Homo sapiens: one gene and its partners. The protein of the gene in region 1 purifies or fractionates together with the protein of each later gene. This does not show direct contact. Each region holds a gene or a part of one and is shown on either strand. Other genes may lie near its edges.

Region 1 (3,500 bases):
CACAATAAGCTCTATACATTTTCACAGTTGTCATTGCATCCCTTCTAAAAGTATGTCTTTATTACAAATATAAAGGAAAGAAGTAAAATGTATCTACATTGAGAAGCACAGACTCACAAGAGTGGCATGAAGGCCTATGGTATACAAAATGCAAAAAGTCCTTTGGGATCTGGTCTTGTGTGTGTGACTTCATTTCCTGTTTCCTGCCTTCTCTACTAATTCCAGCCACACCAGACAGCTTGCTTTTTGTTCTTCATACTTGTCAAGGTCTCTTCCACTTGGGCCATTTGAATTTGCTGTTCCCACTGCTTGGACTACTTTTCCCCAGGTCACCATGCCTCTATCCTTCTCTTCATTCAGATTTCAGTTCAAATGCCACATTCCCAAAGAGGTCTTCCTTGTCCCTCCAATCTGAAAAACCCCTAAATTACTGTCACTCACCCTGTTTAATCATCCATTATACTTATCAACAAAATTATTTTATTCATGCAATTATGTCCCCCTTTCTAGAATGTGAGCACCATGAGAGCAGGGCCTTGCCTAATTTTTTTAACGCATAGCAGGCATTCAACATTTGTTGAATGAAGGTATAAATGACCATCCATGAATCTCTCAGCCCTAACACTAGGGACAGACAAACCAGGGCTGGAGTTCACTTTCTTTGCTCTCTCTTTTCTCCTACCATACTTTCATGTGCCAGGGTTCTGACAAACTGTTCAGTTTCTGGTGTCATTGACATGCAATCATGAAAATAGCAACCATCTATTGAACACCTACATTTCAGATACATTTTAGATATTCTTCCAGTCTAGACCATCCCTTTTCTAATATATACAACACTGCAAACTAAGTGTTCAGAACACCACTTTCAAGATGACGAAACAGGTTCAGAGGACTGAGTGACTTGCCTAAGGTCCCAAGAGCCAGATACAATCCAGACTTTTTCCTCTAAACTAGGCTGCCTCCAGGCTTATATGTAAATCAATTAAATAAACATTTTATTATTGGAGTCCTCATTCTGTAAACCTGAGCGTTATTGGAAGTATCAAAGAAATGTTCCGATCTTGATTGCTGAGGTAAATGGCACAACGGCATGAATTAAACCTACTTTCAGATCTCTGCCCTTTGGTTTTTACCTTCATTCATGTCTTTACAAGATATAAATATATGATATTATGCTTCCCTCATGTTCTTTGTCCTTTTCTTAAAGAAACACAAAGATATTTATGGTCATTAGTGGTCTGCTGTGCAAGAACCAAATTAAACTCAAACTGTATATCTTCAACGTATTAAACGTATTATGAACATATTAAACGTATTAAAACTTATCATTTGTGTGCACTGAGGACTGCACTTTGCTCAGAAGGGCCGAGCTCTGTTGGCAAACTGACTTACAAAAGTGGCCATGTTTCCTCTTTCCTCAGACATTCATGGAAATAATAATAATAGCTAAATTAAGAGGACACTAGTGAAGCTAATTTTTCATAGTTCACAAACGGGTTCCCTCTCTGCCCCATTAGATAGTTTATCTACAGAAAAGAAAAGATGAAAAGAAGTTGGTGGTAAATCAAAATTTTTCTTGCTGGAAAACTAGCTGGCAAAAAAAAAAGCAGCTCTATCTTGCAAAAATTGTTCAACAAAGAAAATCAATATATACTAACAATTTTTGCTATGTGATACTGAAAATGGCCATCAATGATGGTCATAATTGACCTAACTGTTCACTTTCTTGCTATAAGAAGTTAAAATGATTAAAGAAGCTCAAGATCAGTAATTCCTGTGTGAGCTATTTTTGTTCTGCATGTGGGTGGGTCTAGTACAGCTTGTCAGTATTTCCTCCTCCACATCCTGGCAATACTTAATTAACATTAAAAGATCTAGCCAACCAAATGCTAACAAGCAGTAAATTCGGTAGCACAGGGGCTAAAAAAGCAGAATTTTATTAGCTTATTGCTATTTTTTTTAATATAAACATCTACAACTGTGTTTCCATTTTTCAGGGCCATCCCTAGTCCATATGGTATCTTTGTGCCAATGAGAAAAAAGTTGCCTTTTATAGGCTGATGAAGTCTCACACATGTAAGGCTTGATGAAGGAAAAAGAGCTTTTAGCTCCCACTTGAGCACTCAGCCAGACACCTTTGTGTGGTGCAAAAAACTGCTCAACTGAACACGGAGGCCCTGCCCTCCATTCCCTATCTATCCTTTTAGAACTAAGATAAAGAAGACTTCAACAAAGACTGATATGCTGATATGCTTCCTTTACATCTTTTCTTCTTAGATGCACGGGCTTTGTGAGCTCCAAGTCAGTGATAAATTAAAAAAAAAAAAAAAAAAAAAAGAACGATGCATGAGTTTTGGAGCACATGACTTAAGGGTAGATCTACGATGATACATCAAGTCTGTTTCCTAATATTTTAATAAATGACCCATCTAGCTCAATGGTTCTCAGCTCTGAGACTCATTAAAATCACCTTGCGGAAGTTTAAAAATACTCTGATTTCTAAACCTTACTCCAGATGCAACAAAGTTGTACTACTGTGTCAGAATTTCTAGGGGTGGGACCAAGGCACAAATGTTTTAAAACACACACACACAAGCCACAAAATGCACTCAAATGATCCTGATGCACAGTAAGGAGTGGGAGTTACTGGACCAGTATTTAACCTATATTTAAAAATTTTTTTCCATTGCACCAGAACAGCCAAACACAATGAAGTTTTTTTTTTTTTTTTTTTTTTTTGGAGACAGAGTCTTCCTCTGTCTTCAGGCTGGAGTGCAATGGCGCGATCTCGGCTCACTGCAACTTCTGCCTCCCGGGTTCAAGTGATTCTCGTGCCTCAGCCTCCTGAGTAGCTGGGTTTACAGGCACGCACCTGACCACGCCCAGCTAATTTTTGTATTTTTTAGTAGAGATGGGGTTTCACCATGTTGGCCAGGATGGTCTTGCTCTCCTGACCTTGTGATCCCCCCGCCTCGGCCTCTCAAAGTGCAGGGATTACAGGTGTGAGCACCGCGCCCAGCCCAGTGTAAGTTCTTAAAGGTATTTTTGTATTAGTTTTACCCTCTTTTTGGACAGTAGGCTCTTTAGGAGAAAGGACTCAACTTTTAAATCTCTTCGGTCCTTGTTAAACACAGTACCTTGAAATAGTGTGTTCTCAGACAACTCATGGTAGAAAAAAAGAATATCCAAAGGATTCAGGTGAAAATATACTTCTTTTTTCTTTTTTTATTTTTTGAGACGGAGTCTTGCTCTGTCACCCACGCTGGAGTGCAGTGGCGCGATCTCGGCTCACTGCAAGCTCTGCCTCCCAGGTTGAAGCCATTCTCCTGCCTCAGCCTCCTGAGTAGCTGGGACTACAGGCGCCCGCCACCACGCCCGGCTGATTTTTTGTATTTTTAGTAGAGACGGGGTTTCACCGTGTTAGCCAGGATGATCTCGATCTCCTGACCTCATGATCCACCCGCCTCGGCCTCCCAAAGTGCTGGGATTACAGGCGT
Region 2 (3,500 bases), on another chromosome or scaffold:
TCACTTACTACCAGCTCCCACTCAACGCCTATAAATCCTATCAGTTTTACACTGGAGAGGTGGGGATCCTCCCACGAAGGAAGCACTCAATAAATGGAAGCTATTAGTATCTTCCCATTGCTTCTGAGTCCTAGGCAATGTCACCTCTAGCCTGCATCACAGCAATATCCTCCAAACTCATGTCCCCGCCCCTCCCTTGGCCTTTACAATCCATCCCTCTACACTAAGCCATTTTTAAAGAGGGATGTTTTAAAAATGTATGTTGGAATATATTGGAATATATCATTCCCCTGGTTAAAACTCTTCAATGACATCCCATGAGAAAAAAATCCTAACTTCCAAGACTTACAGGGTGTATGTGACTGCTGCATGTCCACCTCTCGGACCTCATCTGGATATCACTTTTCCCTTTGTGCACTATATTCTAACCACACCAGCCTTCATTCTGTTTCTCTTAGAAGGCCAAGATGATCTCTGCCTTAAGTTTTTCTTAATAGCTGCTCCCGCTTCGCATGATTACCGCAAATGTCATTTCCTTAGAGGCCTTCCTGAACCACACTACCTGTGAGATCCTACTCTAGAACATCACTCCATTTTACTATGTCCATATTGTCCTGCTCTGAAAGTATCTTGCTCATTTAATTGTCTTTGCCTGCCTTGTTCACTGCTGCTCCCCCCGTGTCTGGATCCATACTTGGCACATAGAAGGCACTCCAATACATGTTGAATGAAAAATGACATGGACAGCTGTCTCCTCACTGGGAAGAAAACAAGGCACTTGTATGAAAAGCAAGTTTGCAGTCTGGTTAATTAAACTGCTATTCAAATCAAATCTATCCTATGAACTTGGCAGCTTTCTCTGACTTGAGAGTTTTTTTTACTGTTTGTTTGTTTTGGGTGTGGAGGTGTCTTTTATCATAAAAATATCCCTCATCAATTTAGTCAACAGTAATGGGTCAACTATCTTTGTTCATCAACTGACCACAGAAAAAGCACACAGAAAGTATATGTTAATTAGGCTACTCCTACTGTGGACGAGCTGCATCACGGTTGAAGCAGAACTGTTGGACTTTCTGTCCCAATAATGGGGTATAAGAAAGGAGATTGGAAACATGGGTATCCTGAATGTAATACCCAAGCAGAATCTTAAAAGAACCAGAATGCAAACAGAAAGGAATTCGGGCTATTTTATTGAGAAGGACCAGGTTTATCTTCCTCACACTGCCACTGAATCTGCCAAGACACCTAAAACCTGGCTAGTTTTTAAGGTGTTCCCAAGAAAAAAGGAATTTTTAACCCTGGTGTTGCCCACCCCCTTTTCCACCCCTTTCTATTTACTTTTTGGTTTCAGGACAGCTAAAGATTACAGATCGTTTGTCTGTTTGTAATTTAGAGACAGGGTCATGCTCTGTTGCTAAACCTGGAGTGCAGTGGTATGATTATAGCTCACTACAGCTTTGAACTCCTGGGCTCAAGCAATCCCCCTGCCTCAGCCTCCCAAGTAGCTAGGACTACAGGTGCACACCACCATGCCTGGCTAATTTTTAAAAAATTTTTTGTAGACACAGGGTCTCACTATGCTGCCCAGGCTGGAATTTTTTAATAACACTGTTATGTTTACTATCCCTACAAGAAATCATTCCAGCCAACTCCCTAGACCAAATCTCTTCCATAATGAGTTAACATTAATTAACTCATTTAACAAATATTTACTGAACGCCTACTGTGTCAGGGCAGACCATAATGTTGCCCAGCTCCTGGGACACCACTTACATGGAGGCTATATAAATGGTATTCCTTCAAGCTACATAACTCAGCAGCTCTGTGCCAGACACTTTACTAGGTGCCTGGAATATAGGAAAAAACAAATGATCCAATGAATGAGCAAATGTGGAACAGGCATTGTACTACATACTTTTAAACATATTGTCTGTCTTTACCCTCACAACTCTTATGAGGGGGAGTGGTATCCTCCCCCTTTAGCCAGTTAGGAAATTTGGGCTCAAAAAGTTAAGTAACACATCCAAGGTCACTCACATAGTGTCTGAGGCAGAGCTACCATCAATTTCTAAGCAACTGTGAACTAAATCTCATCAAAGCAAGAAAATCTGTCTATTTCAGATAGCTCCTCTAGTAGTCTGTTCTAAGCTTACTCTGTTATGAAGATTCAGTATTTTTTTCAAGTTAATAACACATTTTGCTACTTGCGCCCATGTTGATCAAAAGGTGAGCCAGTTATGTAACTTATCCACAAAAACCATCTTTTTCATCTCTAGAAAGCTAGGTGTCATTTCTTTCTCTTGGATTTCTAATTTTATTCCTTCAAACTTTTCAAATCCTGCAATGAAAGCAGGACTTCATTTCTCATTTAAGGCCTTTCACTATATTTTAGACCTAGTAACAATTTATGTTTAACCTACTAGTCTCCCATTCATGTTTCCCAATTCCTTTTGCAAATATCTGTTTATATATTTACTTATAAACATAATATTCTAATGAACGATAGTTTTTCTTTGCTTTTCCTGGGCACCTAATTTAAGCCCACAGAAAGCTTTTGTTTTTACATGAAGTAAAGTAATTTATAAAACTTTTAATCCAATGTATGCTTTCTATGGTATTAGTTGTATGAGTGCCACTCCTCTCTGCCACAAAACACAACAGCACCAGGCTTAATACAATATAGCCAGAGCAAACACCTACTTTCTACACTAATAATTACTATTATTGCAGTTACAGTAATGCCTACTATTTTTAGTAAACTAGACATCTAGAAATCCAGAAGGAAATAAAAAGGAAGGCATTTGGCAATTAATTTCTTGCTATTAAGTTATGTTACTAAAAGGTTCCCTTACTAGTTAGCTTTGTTTTTTGATCATAAGCTGATGAGACAACTCAACCAAACCAAGGAAAATACCATAACCAAGAAATAAATTCAAAAAATGAAAATGAATATATCTAGAAGAAAGATAATGCTAGGCTGAATCTCTCAAATGTATCAGAATGTTTACATGTCTCGATAGTTCTTGAGGGCTCAACAAAACATAAAACCACAATTCGGCCTCCACAACTCTCTGTAAAGTAGGAAGTTGTCAATTTACAAAGGCTATCACAGAAAAGGAAAGAACAAAAAGGTGGGAAAGGCAATGAATTTAAAAACAAATCCAAAAAACAGACAACATACCTGGCAACATGAGAAAAAGCATCCACAAGGACAGATTCAAATTCTCTAGTGAATTCAGGTCCTTTCCTTTTACTGTTTTGGATGACATCATTCGCTAAATACAGAAAAGTAAGCTTTCTATTTGATTTGGCTGAAAAAAAGAAAAGAAAAGAATTTAACTTACACCAAAGAAATTCTCAATTCACAATTCTTTTGCCCTGGGCTGCTCCTAAAAAAACATTAAGACAAGTATTATCTACCTGGGGGGTCAAGTAGATATGTTTAAAAAGACCACCTAAGGAATAGGTTTGGGAATACCATTTCGGAAAAAAAAAAAAGA
Region 3 (3,500 bases), on another chromosome or scaffold:
ACAGCTGGCCTCTTTTAGTATTTCAGAAGAATAACATCATCTCTAGGGCTATAAATGGGATCCCAGATACAAAATATAATTCAGCTTTAAAACATTTCCTAATGAGGTGGCTAAGAAATATACATGAAAAGATCTATTCAAATTTTGTGTGACCTTTTAGTTCTTGGGCAGGTAAGAGCCAATTACAGTATTTTATTTCAAATAAGTGGTGTGTTTTTTTGTTTGATTTTGTTTTTGAGACAGAGTCTTGCTCTGTCTCCCAGGCTGGAGTGCAGTGGCATAATCACGGCTCGCTGCAGCCTTGACCTCCCAGGCTCAAGTGATCCTCCCGCCTCAGCCTCTACAGTAGCTGGGACCACAGAACATGCCACCACTCTCGGCTAAGTTTTGCATTTTTTTGTAGAGACAGGGTTTTGCCCTGTTGCACAGGCTGGCCTCAAACTTCTGCACTCAAGTGATCCACCTGCTTTGGCCTCCCAAAGTGCTGGGATTACAGGCGTGAGCCACCACCACACCCAGCCCCCGCCCCCCTTTTTTTCTTTTTTTTGCCTTGAGACAGGGTCTCACTTTGTTGCCCAGGCTGGAATGCAGTCGCACACTCATAGCCCCCTGCAGCCTTGACCTCCCTGGCTCAAGCAATCCTCCACCTGTGCCCCCAAGTGCCTGGGTACCTGGGACTACAGGTGCATGCCATAATGCCCAGCTAATTTTTACATTTTTGGGGCCTGGTGTGGCAGCTAACGCCTGTAATTCCAGCACTTTGGGAGGCCAAGGTGGGTGGATCACTTCAGGTCAGGAATTCGAGACCAGCCTGGCCAACATAGTGAAACCCTGTCTCTACTAAAACTGCAATCACGTGAACCCGTGAGGCGGAGATTGCAGTGAGTCCAGCCTGGGCGACAGAGTGAGACTCTGTCTCAAAAAAAAAAATTTGACATTTTTTGTAGATACAGGTCTCACTTTGTTGTCCAGGCTGGTCTCCAACTCCTGGATTCAAGCTGTCCTCCTACCTTGGCCTACCAAAGTGCTGGGATTACGGGCGTGAGCCACTGCACCCAGCCAAGTGTATTATATTTTTAAGCACTGGGATACTCCAGCGTAACATTAGCAAACTGTATAGTTATTAAAAGAATGAAGTAGAGAGCATATATTCAGGGCATTTTGAATCTATGCTCCAGAGAAAAAGTAAATTATGAAAAAAATTAGGCTGGGCACAGTGGCTCATGCTTATAATTCCAGCACTTTAGGAGGCCAAGGCAGGTGGATTGTTTGAGCCCAGAAGTTCGAGACCAGCCTAGGCAACATGGCAAAACTCATCTCTACAAAAAATACAAAAATTAGCCGGGAGTGGTAGCATGCACCTGTGGTCCTAGCTACTCCAGAGGCTAAGGTGGGATGATCGCTTGAGTCTGGGAGGTTGAGGCTGCAGTGAGCCATGATCGCACCACTGCACTCCAGCCTGGGTGAGACAGAGCGAGACTCTGTCTCCCAAATAAATAAATAAATAAATAAATAATGAGGTAGATTTCAAGATGCTGACATGAAAAGATTTCTAAACTATTACTAGAAAATGCAAAAATCACCTTTTACCTGAATCCCAAACACAAAGCAGTTTGTTCATGTCAAGTGAATACAGGTGTATAGTTAGGGTGTGGGGAGAATAACCATATTAACCATATTTTAAATTAATTTATAAAAGCAGTTCATTGTTGCCCCAAATAAAAATGTTTTCCTCTGTAGTTTTATATAAGCAAATTTTGTAATTACAAAATAAACACAGCTCATTATTTGGTCCAAATAGGTGGAAAATATCAGAAAGAAACAAGTTTCAAGTTTCTTGAACTTGGGAACATATATTCAGGGCAACTTGAATATGTGTTTCCCAGGTTGCAGTCCTCTATTTTGGCCCAAATAAACTCTCTCTCCACACACACACACACACACACACACACACACATAAACTCTCTACACACACACACACACACACAAACTCTCTACACACACACACACACTTTTTTTTTTTTTGAGAAAGAGTCTCACTCTGTCACCAGGCTGGAGTACAACTGCGTGATCTCAGCTCACTGCAACCTCCACCTCCCGGGTTCAAGCAATTCTCCTGCCTCAGCCTCCCAAGTAGCTGGGACTGCAGGCGTGCACCACCACGCCCAGCTAATTTTTGTATTTTTAGTAGAGACAGGGTTTCACCTTGTTGGCCAGGATGGTCTCAATCTCCTGACCTCGTGATCTGCCTGCTTCAGTCTCCCAAAGTTCCGGGGCTACAGGTGTGAGCCACCACGCCTGGCTACGTATTTTTCTTCCATTAAACAGTATTTAAAATCGTGAAAACCTACCAAACAAAAGTGAACCTTGGGAATAGAAAAATTTTACATTTAGAGTAACTGGCTTTGCTATTATTTGAAGATCCAGAATAACACAGTGTTACAGAAACATCCCCATCGAAAGCATTTCTAAGGTTCATGCCTCTGGGAAAAGACATCATCTTTGACTCCTTGCAAATAATACACCAAATATTTTAATTTTTAGTTATCCGAAGGAATATATAGTGGACATGGTTATGATTAAAATACAGAAGATTTGCAGCCGGGCGCGGTGGCTCATGCCTGTAATCCCAGCACTTTGGGAGGCCGAGGCGGGTGGATCACGAGGTCAGGAGATCAAGACCATCCTGGCTAACACGGTGAAACCCCATCTCTATTAAAAATACAAAAAATTAGCCTGGCGTGGTGGCAGGTGCCTGTAGGCCCAGCTACTCGGGAGGCTGAGGCAGGAGAATGGCGTGAACCCGGGAGGTGGAGCTTGCAGTGAGTGAGCCGCCCCACTGCACTCCAGTCTGGGCGACGGTGCAAGACTCCATCTCAAAAAACAACCAGAAGATTTGCATAAACTTGCCTTCTCAGTCTAATGACTGATTAAATGACTAATGAACTGAAAAAGTTACTGACCTCAGAGGCTCTGAAGATTTAGGAAAATTGTCAGTAAACACTGAAAACTTCAATACATATATTTAGTATTTATTTGTAAAGTTCTGACCTTGAAAGCCACATAACAGTCTCTTTATGATTATTTTCATGTAATGCATATAATATTATCATTATATATGTTCCACTACTCATGATTTTTTTCCAAAAATTTAACACTGAGAGCCTGGTCCAGTACAAAGTAAAGCAAAAGAGTTACATGCTGTTGTTCCATCAGCTTTAGAAAAATGTGATGATTAGTGAAGTAATTACAAATCTATTTCAGGCTTCAAAGATATAAAATACAGTTGCCCTAATCCCATTTTCGTCGTTTATTTTCTAAAATGTTAGCATACTTGAAAATCGGATTAAAATGTATTATTGAATATTTTCTTAATTGCTTGTCTACAAAGTTTTCTTCCCACATTGTGGGTTATTTTCATATTTACTAAAACTGTTACAGGAAAACAACTGCCCTTTCCTAAATGTCCCACTTCTGATGACAAAAACAGATACTCAGTT
Region 4 (3,500 bases), on another chromosome or scaffold:
ATGAAGTAGGAAAGATAACAGATGAAGGTCAAAGATGGGCCGATCCATGTCTTGGTGAGAGCACAGAAGCTTGTGGGGCATTCTGATACCAGAGCAGGGTTGAGTTCAATCTTGGAGGCCCACCCATTTTCTCACCCTCAAAATGTGTGCAACCCCAGCTGGTCTCCTGAGAGGTGTGATCCAGGCTGCCTGTGTTCCCTGGAGAAGGTGATCACCCTGCCTTTCATAGGATGCAATCAGAACCCATTCCTGGAGACCGTATCCCACCCTACAAAGTGCAATCAGTTGGCCTTTCCTGTTTTCCACCTCCCGCTGCACAGAGCTTCAGTCCCCTGGCCTCCCTCTGCCCTTAGAGTCAAAAACCCCTCACCTCCCAAGGGCTTTTAACAGCCCTGGTGGCCCAGGCCAATGATACCTACCTTGTCCTGATCAGGACTGTAACAAGGGTGGCCTCCCTGGAGGTTGTGACAAATGGGCCTTAATATACACCCCCATCCCTCTGGAGAGGACACAACCTAATCCTGGGTATAACCTGCTTGTCGCTCCCTCTCTTTACCCATGAAGCCAGCTTCTTAAGCTACTTCTCTTCTTCTTGCATAATGGGTGCAATCCAAGAAGCCTTCCCTAAGGCAGTGGCTTCCTTACACCGGACCTATTTATAACCATCCTATCCCCAGCGCTAGAAGAAGCTACTCCACTCGCGCACACGTCTCCCTGGTCTATTCCGGGCAGAGGTGCAATCCAGACAATCTCCCCGATGGCAGGGACCCTGCAATCCGGAATCCATATGTAACCCACCTCCTCTCTCTCCCTGTCTAGGAGAAGCCGACCCCTCCCGCAATGCCCGCCCCGCCGTGCGCCTCCTGCCATGCTGCACGCGCCGCCCTCCGCCGTCCGCTCTCGGGCCAAGCGCTGTGCGGTGCCTGCTTCTGCGCCGCCTTCGAGGCCGAGGTGCTGCACACGGTGCTCGCCGGCCGCCTGCTGCCGCCCGGCGCGGTGGTGGCCGTGGGCGCCTCGGGCGGCAAGGACTCCACGGTGCTGGCGCACGTGCTGCGCGCGCTGGCGCCGCGCCTGGGCATCTCACTGCAGCTCGTGGCCGTCGATGAGGGCATCGGTGGCTACCGGGACGCGGCGTTGGCGGCCGTGCGGCGCCAGGCGGCGCGCTGGGAGCTGCCGCTCACGGTCGTGGCCTACGAAGACCTCTTTGGGGGCTGGACGATGGACGCCGTGGCCCGCAGCACAGCCGGCTCCGGCCGCAGCCGCTCCTGCTGCACCTTCTGTGGAGTGCTGCGGCGCCGGGCGCTGGAGGAAGGGGCGCGCCGCGTGGGAGCCACGCACATCGTGACAGGTGAGCGTAGTACGGGCCGCAGAGCGGCACTCTCCGAGGCAGTGGGGCGAATGCACAGGCGAGGAGGCGGGACCTGAAAGGGGATTCAGGCGCATGCTCCAGAAGGCGGCGAGGAGACCCTGGTGGCTTAATGGGAGGATCCCTGTACGGAGGTGCGGAAGGGCGCATGCTGCAGTTTGGGGCTGGGGCCCTTTAAAGGTTCAAGACGCTGGGGAGACAGAGGGGCCAGGCAGTGATCACAAAGGTTTTTGGGTCTTGGCCACCGTCTTGGTCTCCACAGATTGCCAAAGGGGTGGGAGGTGAAAATCTCTGGAGATCTCTGGTCCTTTACTTATTTTTAAATGTTTCTAACATGCTTGATCTCTTATGGTCCACCTTTCAGAATCCAGCTCTTTCTCTAAAAAGCATCTCCATCTCTTAATTCCTTTTCTTGGTTGGCCTCTCCTCTTTGATAACTTTTTTTTTTTTTTTTTTTTTGAGACAGAGTCTCGCTCTGTCTCCCAGGCTGGAGTGCAGTGGTGCGATCTCGGCTTACTGCAACCTCTGCCTCCCGGATTCACGCCATTCTCCTGGCTCAGCCTCCCGAGTAGCCGGGGCTACAGGTGCCTGCCACCACGCCCAGCTAATTTTTTGTATTTTTAGTAGAGACGGGGTTTCACCATGTTAGCCAGGATGATCTCGATCTCCTGACCTCGTGATCCACCCACCTCGGCCTCCCAAAGTGCTGGAAGATAACTTTTTTATTCTGTCTTTTTCATCCATTCCTTCAACAAACAGATGCTAAGTTTCTGCTATATGCCGGATCCCAACTGTGGCCATACCAAAGTTCTTAACCACTCTGTACTTCTGTTTCACCCCATCCCTAAAACAGGACTATGAATGGTACCCAGCTCATAAACTTGTTATGACAATTAGATGAGTCAGTAGAAGTATAACGTTATCTATATTATAGTTATGTTACATAACCCGTATGATATAATATAGATTACACATTTTATACATGCTATTATCATCATCATTGTCAGGCTAGGGCTGAGAATACAGTTACGCACAAGTTCCTACCTTTGCATGGTTATCAGGTACAAAATTATAAACATTATACATGTTATTGACCATGTATGGACATGTTATGGACTATGTGTACACACAGAGAACCCTATGACGTGGAGGGAGTGGGGTCAAGGAACGGTTTTGAAATCTGAAGGCTCACAGTGAAGAGGTAAAGCGGGTAAGAATTAGGGAGAGGTTATTGGCCTGTGAAAAGCCAATTTGGGCTGCCCCAAGAAGTCCAGTGTGGCTGGAACCCAGAAAGCAAGGGCAGGGGAGGCTGGAGAGGTGGAAGAGGTCAGGCCTTACCCTGTAGGCTGTGGCGGAACCAGTAAAAGTGACATGAAGAGAGTTTCACTTTGAAAAGCTCACCCAGGCCATGGCGAGGAACCTGGGTTGGAGGGACAGGGACAAAGCCGAGGAGACCAGTCAGTGGGAAGCCAGCTGCGGTGATGGAGGTGAGAGATGATGGTTGGAGAGAATCAGCACACTGAAAGCATATGAAGGCAAAAGTAGTTCTGAGGCTGTCATGTGCCACCATGCTAGGTAGGGCCACTGGCTCTGGGGAAGGCTTACTGAGCTTCATTCACTGATGTGGCCCTTTCCTTACTGAGTAACTTTGGAGAAATCCCTAGATCTCTGTGATTGAAAATGGGAAGAATAATCCTTACCATACAAGAGCAGACAGTGTATGGAAAGAATGAAAGGCTTCGGCCGGGCACAGTGGCTCACACCTGTAATCCCAGCACTTTGGGAGGCTGAGGCAGGCGGAATCACAAGGTCAAACGTTCGAGGCCAGCCTGGCCAACATGGTGAAACCCCGTCTCTACTAAGAATACAAAAATTAGCTGAGTGTGGTGGTGGGCGGCTGTAATCCCAGCTACACGGGAGGCTGAGGCAGGAGAATTGCTTGAACCCGGGAGGCGGAGGTTGCAGTGAGTCGAGATCACGCCACTGCACTCCAGCCTGGGTGACAGAGCAAGATTCCAGCTGGGGGAGAAAAAAAAAGAATGAGAGGCTGCCTCGGATTTTAAAGTTAATTTGATAGAATCACTTATTAATTGTACTTCCAAAAGTAATGAAGCCTTCCAGAAAAATCCCTGAC
Region 5 (3,500 bases), on another chromosome or scaffold:
GATGGGGTCTCACTGTGTTGCCCAGGCTGGTCTTGAATTTCCGGGCTCAAGTGATCTACCTGCCTTGGCCTCCCAAAGTGCTGGGATTATAGGAGCGAGCCACCAGACCCTGTCCTTTTCTAGTTTCTTAAGGTGGAAGCTGGGGTCATTAGTTTGAGAACTTTCTTCGTTCCTAATATAGGTGTTTCGTGATATAAATTTCTCTTTAAGTACTGCTTTAGGGATGCTAAAATTTTGATATGTTGTGTTTTCACAGAGAATGGGATCAGGGAAGTTTTCAAAGGTTCTAGTAATCTCTTTCTTAAGCTGGGTGGTAGGTACATGGATACATTTGTTTATTTGTGCATTTATTCTTTATATCATACATATAAATATTCTTTTGAGTATATTCTGTATTTAACAAGGAACTTTTAAAAAATGTGAATGGGAGGTAATGATGTAATCATCTGGTGGGTAAACAACTCTTTGAGCGGTTATGTTGTGAAGTGAAGCAGTGAAAGGGGGTAGTAATTTTAAAATGATGTGAGATAAAAGGGGAGATTGTTTTCGTATTGTTTTGTTTTAAAGCAAGTTTTCTGATTTAAATAAGAGTCATAAACTTTATGAAACCATACAAGTAGCAGATATAAAAGTGATATCCTGATGTGAAATTTGATGTGTTTAACCAAAACTCTTGCTTTAGAATAATACCACTTAAATTTTTTCTTAGATAGCAGTTTGAGTTCTGCTGCAGTACAAAAAACAAATACTTCATTGAGTTCCAAGAATTCCCTATCAAAAACTAGACAAATGATCTTGGTCTAAAGAATTTTCATGTCAGATATTGTAATCAGTTACCTGTCAATATAAATTATAAATACCTCTTAAAAGTAGTCATAAGGCCGGGTGTGGTGGCTCACACCTGTAATCCCAGCATTTTGGGAGACGGAGGTGGGTGGATCACTTGAAGTCAGGAGTTCAAGACCAGCCTGGCCAACGTGGTGAAACCCCATCTCTATTAAAAATACAAAAATTAGCTGGGTGTGGTGGTGCACGCCTGTAATTCCAGCTACTTAGAAGGCTGAGGTAGGAGGATCACTTGAACCTGGAAGGCAGAGGTTGGAGTGAGTCAAGATCATGCCACTACAGTACAGCCTGGGTGATGGAGTAAAACTCCATCTCAGAAAAAAAAAGTAGTTATAAAAGAGTAAGATGAAGGTAAAAATAAATTATTCTTGTTTACCAGAGGGTAAGGAGCAAAATAAGCTGTTTGCAGCCAGTTATCTGTACTATGCCTATTTATTTAATGACATATAACTTCAGGATGTTTCATAAGATAACTGAGTAATTACTAAGCTGTGCAATTTATTTGGTTTCTGTAGATAATAGAACATACTTAAATAGTGAATTGCTTTTCTGTCTCTCTCTCTCTTTTGGTCTTTATGGCATGTCTTGCCAATCATATTTTTTCTCTCCAATAGGTTGTATGGTTCCTGGAGCTGGTGCAATTGAAGTGGCAATGGCTGAAGCTCTTGTTACATATAAGAACAGTATAAAAGGAAGAGCTCGTCTTGGAGTCCAAGCTTTTGCTGATGCCTTACTCATTATTCCCAAGGTACAACTACCCTTTCGGCCAAATAACAACTGCTTAGACATAAAGGTGTTTAATTACAAATTGCCCATATTATCTGATAGTTAATGGAGTAGACAGGTATTTATGTGCATTTCCTTACACAGTTTTCTCTTAGATATTTTACAACTAAAGCAGGGAAACTTTTGCGATAACAGCCCAGGATCCTTGCACGATCTCATGAAATAGCCAACTTACCCCCTTGCTTCTTTCTCTGAGTTCCAAAAATTAAAGCAGCTCCAAAAATTTCCTTCAGAAATGACTCATGATTAACTAATCATAATGAAAAAGTTTAGAATTTAAAATTTAGTTAGATTTTGTGGTACATCTTTGTTTTGTTAGTGGTATCCAAATGTAATCAATTTAAATTGTGGAGAGGGAGGGCTTGAGGCTCTTTAGCACTCCTAGATACAACCTTACATTTGTCATCATCATTATAATTCCTAGAAAAAGAGAAAACAGAATTTTTCCATGTGGCAACCTAAGGACAGAAAGCGACCATTCCTTTGTCTTTGCCTTAATTGGTTTCAAACCACCTTAGAAATATAGTAAAACTACTTCAAAGATGCTATTACCATGAATTAAAACATTATTAACAATGTTAGCAAAATCTCTTTGCTAATTTTTATTAAAATTTTTCATAATTTGTGAAATCTTTGTGAATTAGATTTGCTATTTTTTCTTTCCCCAGAGCAGCAAAGTCAGTATGATCCTGCTGCTGACAGAAATTGGTAACCCCAGTACACATTACATTGGTGGTACCTTTTTCCTCATCAGCTGGTGATTTGGGGCCACTTGGAAGTGAGCCTGGTTTGGAGTGCAGGTATCTCCAACCCTGTTACCACAGGTCGTGACTCTCCTCATGAAGATGAGGGGCACAAAGGTGCTGCAAATATTCTGGTTTCCTTAGCAAGTGCCTATGAAGAACTGGAGGGCATGTGGCTAGCGGCACTAGAGGAAACAAGAATATCATTCTACTTCCTTCCATACTAAAAACAAAACAAAACAAAACAAACCTTTTGCAAGGAGGGAAATTAATGTAGTAGGGTAAAAATGGGGGAACTCTGATGTCCTCAGAATTTAGTGTGACGTGCATAGGGGAAATGTTTAAGTAAATATAAAAACTACTAGATAGATGAAATAATAATTTGATTTAGATTAAAAGTGGAATTCTTCAAAAGGAGATGATTGCCATGTTATGGATGTGTTTTTACAAGAGTAAAGAGTATTTTTATATTTGATATATGTGAAGGTATTATGCATATATATATAATATATATTATTATTTTTATTCCTAAAGGTTCTTGCTCAGAATGCTGGTTATGACCCACAGGAAACATTAGTAAAAGTTCAGGCTGAGCATGTCGAGTCAAAACAACTTGTGGGCGTAGATTTGAATACAGGTAAGAAAGTGAAGGAAAATTAGCTGCTTAATAAAGAGGTTATTCTTTAGTTACCCAGATCTTATGGTAAAGGAGTAGAGGTTTGGGTAACTTTAATATTTAAATTTTGGATGCCTTTAGTTTATTTTTGAGCTTCTTAAAAAATGTTCATTCATTTAAGAAATAGTTATTGAGTGCTTGTTTTCCTCTTGGGCTTCACACAGAACAAAACAGACAAAAATATCTGCCCCTGGGAGCTTATGTTGTAGTGGGAGAAGGTAGGCAGTAAATAATAACTTTAATAAATAAACTCCTTCAGCATTTTAGAAAAAGTAATGAATTATATGGAAAAAAGAGTGCTATAATAATGATCATGAATGCTAGTACAGGAGGGTGGAGAGAGAATGACAGCTTAAAGGGTTGGTCAGGGTAGGCATCATCTAGATGTCTGTTGAAAAAAAGTGGAAGGAAGTGAGGAAATTAGCCATGTAGGCAACTGGGGTTAAGTG
Region 6 (3,500 bases), on another chromosome or scaffold:
GTAGAGGCTGCAGTGAGCTGTGATTGTGCCACCACACTCCAGCCTAGGCAACAGGGATGAAACTGTCTCAAAAAAAGGGAAGGGGTGGGCTGGGCGTGGTGGCTCTTGCCTGTAATCCCAGCAATTTGGAAGGCCAAGGCAGGCGGATCACTTGAGGCCAACCATTTGAGACCAGCCTGGGCAAAATGGTGAAACCCTGGCTCTACAAAAAATACAAAAATTAGCTGGGCTTGGTGGCGCACACCTGTAATCCCAGCTACTTGGGAGGCCGAGGCACGAGAATTGCTTGAATCCGGGAGGCGGAGGTTGCCGTGAGCCGAGATCGCACCACTGCACTCCAGCCTGGGTGACAGAGTGAGACTGTCTCACAAAAAAAAAGCCAAAATATTCCTCTCTTTCCAACCACTTATTTGCATGAAATTAGAACTTCCTCATATACTTAAATATAAAAAATAAAATACTACAATGGAATGAATGCAGAAGTAGATGTAAGAATCCAGCTGTTTCTATTAAGCCAGGTCATTAGAGAGATTCGCAAAAATGTAAACCAATGTTATTCTTGTCACTAAATTCATCTGGAAAATAGATATATTTTTCATTAAACATGGTTTTTTGTTTTGTTTTGTTTTGTTATCGAGACAGAGTCTCACTCTGTCGCCCAGGCTGGAGTGCAGTGGCACGATCTTGGCTCACTGCAACCTCCACCTCCTGGGTTCAAGCAATTCTTCCCTCAGGCTCCCGAGTAGCTGGGATTACAGGTGTGAGCCACCACGCCCAGCCAAAACATGTTATTTATGTTAACACGTAATGAGCTTATTAGCATTTTTAAAACAATAAATTTAAAATCTCAGCTTTAACTTCTAATATGATAAATATCAATAAATACAACTCACATAAAACAAAAGCATTTTGGGTTCCCGGGATCAAGACATTTGAGAACCATTGTTTTAAAGATATACACTGAAAAATTTATAGGAGAAATTATATGATGTCTGGGCTTTGCTTAAAAATAATCAAGAGGGCTGGGTGCAGTGGTTCACGCCTGTAATTCCAACACTTTGGAAGGCTGAGGCTAGAGGATTGTGGCCATGAGTTCAAGTCCAGCCTGGGCAACATAGTGAGACCCCCGTCTCTACAAAATTTTTTGTTTTTTGTTTTGAGATGAAGTCTCACTCTGTCACCCAGGCTGGAGCACAGGGGTGTGATCTCGGCTCACTGCAACCTCCGCCTCCCAGGTTCAAGTGATTCTCATGCCTCAGCCTCCCGAGTAGCTGGGATTACAGGTGTGTGCCACCATGCCCGACTAATTTTTTGTATTTTTAGTAGAGACGGTGTTTTGCCATGTTGACCAGGCTGGTCTTGGACTCCTGACCTCAGGTGATCTACCCGTCTTGGCCTCCCAAAGTGCTGGGATTGCAGACATGAGCCATTGCGCCTAGCCTCTACAAAAAAAAAATTTTTTTTTTAAAGGTGTAGTGGCACATGCCTGTAGTTAAAAAAAAGGTTGGAGGACAACCAATAAATTCAAAAAAGGACTTAAGAGACAATATTAATTTAGCTACTTGGGAGGCTAAGGTAGGATTGCTTGTGCCCAGTTCAAGGCTGCAGGGAGCTGTGGGCATGCCACTGCACTCCAGCCTGGGTGACAGAGTGAGACTCTGCCTTTAAAACATGATGATAATATCAAAGGTTAGAAGGACAGAGATGAATGCAACAAGACTGGCCATCAGTCGATAATTGTTGAAATGGGGGTAACAGGCACACAGGCATTCACTATACCACTATCTCCATTTTGGTGTGTTGACATTTTTCATAATATAAGGTTAATTAATAATAATGATGATGATACAGTTCTTACCGAGATCTACCCTCCATGGGCTGTCTATTGAGGATCTGAATAGGTCCCCTAGCACGAGAGTGAATCTTATCATCCACCATATGCTTCAAACGCTGGTAATAAGTGGGGCCAATAAATATTTGTGATGTGATTTTTCGACCAGTGAACCCATTGTACAGGACCTGCAACAAACACAGATTTTGAAGTGTAGACCTAAAAATTAAACAACGTCAAAGAAGATATGTGTATATATTGTGTTACTCCATTTATATAAAAATTAAAGCACAGAACTAATCTATAATGTTAGCAATTAAGAGAGTAATTAGCTTGGGGTGGGAGTGGAAAGGTAGCGACTAAAAAAGGTTCAGTCGCTACCTTCACATTTTTAGATCTTGGTGTTAGTCATGCAGCTGTGTTTACTTTGTGAAAATTCATCAAGCTGTACATTTCTATATGTGCACATATGATACTTCAATAAAAGGTTACATTGTTTCAGAATAAAACTACACACATACAAAAAAAAACAAGTGGCAAATTACTACTATAAGAGCAAATATACCTCATTTCCTCTGAGATGATAGCCATAATCAGATAAAAGATTAGAAATCTTCTGCACGTTAACAGCATCATTAAATGGAGTGGCATCACCAATTTCACCCTTGTTAGCCGATACCTTTTAAAAAAAAAAGTACTCTTTAAAATGTTGCTTCAGTCTGTCTCCCCCTAAAAGTCATATCAATAAAAATGCATTCAAAAAATTTTTAAATACTTTTAAAATTTGAAAGTATTATTTTAAGTATTTTAAAATTCAAAGATTTTGAACTCAAAATCTATGTTATGGAAAGCTGTGATATATAAGGTTCATTTTATAACCTTACACAAAACATTTAGAACAAATAAACTTGCTTAAAAAAGAAAAACTCAATTATAAGTATTCAAATAGAAGTCGATCCATGGGATCAGGTACAAAAAGAGTGAGACTCCTAAGTACTTCAGATGGCTCAAAGGAAAATGACATTTTAATGCCCTAAAACCAAGCCATCCATATGTTAGACTATTACCACTTTACCTTAAAAGAATACTTAAAAATAGAAAACCTCCACCAAAAGATGTATGCAGAGCTGATAATAGAACTATAAAATTATTAAGTTCACATTGAACTCTCCATCAACAAATTAACTGTTCATCTACAGAAAAGAACTAGTCAAAAGGAAAATCACATATGTATTAGTTGAATGTAGTATATCTCACAAAAATTCTGACTTGTCCATAACTTTGCAAATTGCCAAAAAAAATGGCAGAATCATAAGCAATTTGAAAGCAGAAAAGTAAGTCTCACACTAGCTTTTTACAAAGTACCCTGGCTCAAATGTGAGAGCAATCACCTATCAGAGTTTTAGAAGAAGCATCAGCTTAGAATCTATATTTTTGAAGAACATCTCTTACCTTCCCTTGAAGGCATTCAATTAAGTGACCAATAGTCATACGAGAGGGGATGGCATGGGGATTGATGATGATATCAGGGGTGATACCTTCACAGGTGAAAGGCATATCCTACAAAGAAAAATTTTAAAAGGGACTCAAAGATACATATACTAAACTAGAACTGACATTTCAGTTCTCCCAACTGAATTACTGTATGTCCCAAATTCTGTTTAAACAT
Region 7 (3,500 bases), on another chromosome or scaffold:
CATAAAGACAGAATCCCAAAGGTTGCCAGCAGGCACAAAGCCCCTGGCAGAGAGGCAGGCAAGGTCCCCTCACCCGCTGGGAACCATCAGACAGCCAATTTCATTTTAATGCCCTTCAAAAGATCCATATGGGTGATGAAAAACCAGGGTATCTACAGCCCCGTGAGCAACTTTCTTTACCTCCCATAACCAAACTTTTAGCAACCAGGATTGAGCACTTGCTAGAATCTGACAGGTTCCAAGTACCTGTTCTCTTTTTTTCAGCCTCACTGCCTGTGGGAACACAGTTTGTGGACAGCCCTCAGAACAGTCCCTCCACGGACTGCTAGAGAGTCCAGACAGAGGTGTGTTCACAGGCTCTCCTAGACACCCTCTGGGCCACTGGATGTCAGATGCCCCTAAATCACTGACAAAGATCAGCTGACCTCACAGTTCAGGTTCCTGGGCAGCTCTGCCCCTACTGTCTGAATCTCCTCTACAAGGCTAGATGGAGCCTAAAAGGTCACCTCCACCACCAGCTCTCCCAGTTGGGTCAGAGAAGTGCAAACATAAAATCCCTGCCAAACAGCAGTTCCACCTGGCCTTGGAACCAGCGGTTCCCCTGGCAAACCCTTCCATCTGATTGTGAGGAAGCTCTTCTTACTAAGCTCAAATTGGGTTGTCCTACAACTTCCACCCTGAGCTGCACTCCTCAGAACCATACAGAATCCCTCTCCCCTGTGACAGCAATTCAGAGAATGGAGGCTGCCTGGTTATTCAGAACAGAATGTTATGGAAAGGCTCAGGTCTCAAGGCCAACTACTCCCCTCTTGGTTGTGTAACCTTGAGAATGTTACGTACTTTTCTGAGCCTGATTCTTCAATTGTTTTCTAGGGAAATCAGTGAGATAATGACATAATTTATCTAGCACAGAGAAGGCACTCAGTAATGTCTAGTTGCTCATTCAGTCAATGATTCATTCATTGAAAATAGTCCTTTAGTTCCAAGTTGTTCCCACATTTAAACATCCTCAGTTCCCTTGGTGGTGCCTCATGCTTTCCAGTGGTACCAGAAATAAGACATCGAGACACCCTGCAGGGAGCTCTTTATTCTGTTGTGCTCACCTTTTCTCACTGAGCTTCAAGTCCCTCTGTAACACTGTCAGGTCAATTTGGAAGTCATGTATGTGCAAGGCAAGTATGATCACATATGCAGTAATCTTCGCCTTCATAGAATCCGAAATTAAGTTCCGTAATCTAGAAAATCAGTGGCAATAAAGGAGAAACAAAATTAAACTCTCAGACAATTTCTCCAAAAGCAAAATAAGAACATCCAATCCTATTCTCATATGCACGGAATGTCTTCCCAACTTCAGGAAAGGAAAAGGAATGTGGGTGACTTTGCCCTTCCAAGGTTCCTGGGCCTCACACACAGTGGAGCAGTGTGCCAGTCCATGTTTCCCTCTGAGGCAGATAGAGAAAGCTGGGCCTACACTCTACCTGGGCACTGCTAGCGCTTTGAGCTGGTGAGGGCCCTGTGAGTCTGTCCCCGCCTGCCCAGCAGGGCTGCTGGGAAAACAATCATCCCGAAATCAGCTGTGCTGATTCTTCCAAGCACACTCAAGAGCAGAAAACACACGCCATGCAAATGGCAGGAAGGAAGCCCAGGGGCAGGGCCTGCGGGTCTTTCCCCAGAGTCACCGAGTTGGGCTGCCCTTTTCTGCAATGCTGCCTTTCCGCAGAACACCAGCTCTGTGAGACATCGGGAAGGGCTATTCAAAAGTATGTGAAGTAAAACAAGTCTTTATTGTAGGACTTCCCAGAGCTTCTAAGGTTCCCAAAAGGTAATACTTTTCTAAGAAGGGCAGAGTATGTCATATTTAGCATTTGCTAAACTTACTGGGGCCCCAGGAGCCTTCCAAATGGCAGCAGTCTTTTCAGCACTGCATCTCCGTGGACATGGAATTGAGTCCAAGCCCCTGCTCCTCACTCCCAACCCCCACCTACTTTCTCCTGCACAAGAAAAATCCCAGCAACCACCCCCTGACCTGCCATTGTTGTAGGTCAAGCAAGTAAAGTGCTTCAGCAGTTTGGTGTTGATGATGTGGGGAACTCCAGGTCCCAGAGCACCTACAACACAAAGTTGAGTTTGATCATTTTCTCTCAAAACCCTCAGGCCACACCTCAACCATGAGCTAAGAGAAAAGGCCAACAGCTGGGCCACTGCAATGACCAGAACCAGGTGGTAAGAGAAGCAGGGCCCACACAAAGCAGAACAGCCACATCAAAATGAAAACATGCTTGGTGTGCTGCAGCCTGCAGTTTGCCCTGCACGAGAGATGCTGGTGATGGGGCAATGACAAGAAAACACAGCCTGAGGCCTAAGGACCCAGAGTTAACATGACCTTAGAAAACAAAAATTGTGCTGAAAGCTCAGGGAGAGAGGGGGAAAGGTGGAATTGGAATGTGAAAATAAGAACTAAGTGGCCAGGCGCGGTGGCTCACGCCTGTAATCCCAACACTTTGGGAGGCCGAGGCAGGCAGAACACCTGAGGTCAGGAGTTCAAGACCAGCCTGACCAACATGGTGAAACCCCATCTCTACTAAAAACACAAAAATTAGCCAGGTATGGTGGCGCAAACCTCTAATCCCAGCTACTTGGGAGGCTGAGGCAGGACAATTGCTTGAACCCAGGAGGCAGAGGTTGCAGTGGGCCAAGATTGCGCCACTGCACCCTAGCCTGGGCAATAGAGTGAGACTCCATCTCAAAAAAACAAAACAAAACAAAACAAAACAAAACAAAACAAAACAAAAAACAACTGGCTGGGCATAGTGGCTCACACTTGTAACCCCAGCACTTTAGGAGACCAAGGCAGGCAGATCATGAGGTGAGGAGTTCGAGACCAGCCTGACCAACATGGTGAAACCCCGTCTCTACTAAAAATACAAAAATTAGCCGGGTGTGGTGGCGGGCGCCTATAATCCCAGCTACTCAGGAGGCTGAGGCAGGAGAATCCCTTGAACCCAGTAGGTGGAGGTTGCAGGGAGCCGAGATCGAGCCACTGCACTCCAGCCTGGGCGACAGAGCGAGACTCTGTCTCAAAAAAAGAAAAAAAAAAAAGAACTAAGCAAATACAAGCTGGGTGCAGTAGCTCACGCCTGTAATCCCAGCCAGCATTGTGGGAGGCCAAGGAGGGTGGATCACCTGAGGTCAGGTGTTCGAGACCAGCCTGGCCAACATGGAAAAACCCCGTCTCTACTAAAAACACAAAAATTAGCTGGGCGTGGTGGTGCCCGCCTGTAATCCCAGCTACTCGGGAGGCTGAGGCAGAATTGCTTGAACCCAGGAGATGGAGGTTGTAGTGAGCCAAGATCATGGGACTGCACTCCAGTCTGGGTGACAGAGCGAGATACTGTCTCAAAAAAAACAAAACAAAAACAAAACAAAAAAACAACAAAAAAAGCATGACTAAGCAAATACAGTCATGTCCCACATTACAGTGTTTTGGTCAATGACAGGCC

What was found.
Region 2: the proteins of DNAAF10 (region 1) and RPRD1B purify together in Homo sapiens (affinity purification with mass spectrometry; 2 studies listed by BioGRID and IntAct, with this or other methods). This does not show direct contact.
Region 3: the proteins of DNAAF10 (region 1) and DNAAF2 purify together in Homo sapiens (affinity purification with mass spectrometry; one large-scale study listed by BioGRID and IntAct). This does not show direct contact.
Region 4: the proteins of DNAAF10 (region 1) and CTU1 purify together in Homo sapiens (affinity purification with mass spectrometry, with the first as the bait; one large-scale study listed by BioGRID). This does not show direct contact.
Region 5: the proteins of DNAAF10 (region 1) and CCT6B purify together in Homo sapiens (affinity purification with mass spectrometry, with the first as the bait; 2 studies listed by BioGRID). This does not show direct contact.
Region 6: the proteins of DNAAF10 (region 1) and POLR2B purify together in Homo sapiens (affinity purification with mass spectrometry; 3 studies listed by BioGRID and IntAct, with this or other methods). This does not show direct contact.
Region 7: the proteins of DNAAF10 (region 1) and POLR1E purify together in Homo sapiens (affinity purification with mass spectrometry, with the first as the bait; one large-scale study listed by BioGRID). This does not show direct contact.

The regions. Positions count from the first base shown.
Region 1 is NC_000002.12:68,151,028-68,154,527, forward strand, and holds part of DNAAF10 (dynein axonemal assembly factor 10), read right to left. Parts: intron 1-3,500. UniProt on the Homo sapiens protein: Key assembly factor specifically required for the stability of axonemal dynein heavy chains in cytoplasm.
Region 2 is NC_000020.11:38,040,246-38,043,745, reverse strand, and holds part of RPRD1B (regulation of nuclear pre-mRNA domain-containing protein 1B), read right to left. Parts: intron 3,312-3,500; coding exon 3,182-3,311; intron 1-3,181. UniProt on the Homo sapiens protein: Interacts with phosphorylated C-terminal heptapeptide repeat domain (CTD) of the largest RNA polymerase II subunit POLR2A, and participates in dephosphorylation of the CTD by RPAP2. Transcriptional regulator which enhances expression of CCND1.
Region 3 is NC_000014.9:49,628,745-49,632,244, forward strand, and holds part of DNAAF2 (protein kintoun), read right to left. Parts: intron 1-3,500. UniProt on the Homo sapiens protein: Required for cytoplasmic pre-assembly of axonemal dyneins, thereby playing a central role in motility in cilia and flagella.
Region 4 is NC_000019.10:51,101,910-51,105,409, reverse strand, and holds part of CTU1 (cytoplasmic tRNA 2-thiolation protein 1), read left to right. Parts: intron 1-819; 5' UTR 820-840; coding exon 841-1,348; intron 1,349-3,500.
Region 5 is NC_000017.11:34,930,461-34,933,960, reverse strand, and holds part of CCT6B (T-complex protein 1 subunit zeta-2), read left to right. Parts: intron 1-1,460; coding exon 1,461-1,594; intron 1,595-2,909; coding exon 2,910-3,012; intron 3,013-3,500. UniProt on the Homo sapiens protein: Component of the chaperonin-containing T-complex (TRiC), a molecular chaperone complex that assists the folding of proteins upon ATP hydrolysis.
Region 6 is NC_000004.12:57,023,896-57,027,395, reverse strand, and holds part of POLR2B (DNA-directed RNA polymerase II subunit RPB2), read right to left. Parts: intron 3,392-3,500; coding exon 3,284-3,391; intron 2,511-3,283; coding exon 2,397-2,510; intron 2,020-2,396; coding exon 1,859-2,019; intron 1-1,858. UniProt on the Homo sapiens protein: Catalytic core component of RNA polymerase II (Pol II), a DNA-dependent RNA polymerase which synthesizes mRNA precursors and many functional non-coding RNAs using the four ribonucleoside triphosphates as substrates.
Region 7 is NC_000009.12:37,499,448-37,502,947, reverse strand, and holds part of POLR1E (DNA-directed RNA polymerase I subunit RPA49), read right to left. Parts: intron 2,109-3,500; coding exon 2,027-2,108; intron 1,236-2,026; coding exon 1,104-1,235; intron 1-1,103. UniProt on the Homo sapiens protein: Component of RNA polymerase I (Pol I), a DNA-dependent RNA polymerase which synthesizes ribosomal RNA precursors using the four ribonucleoside triphosphates as substrates.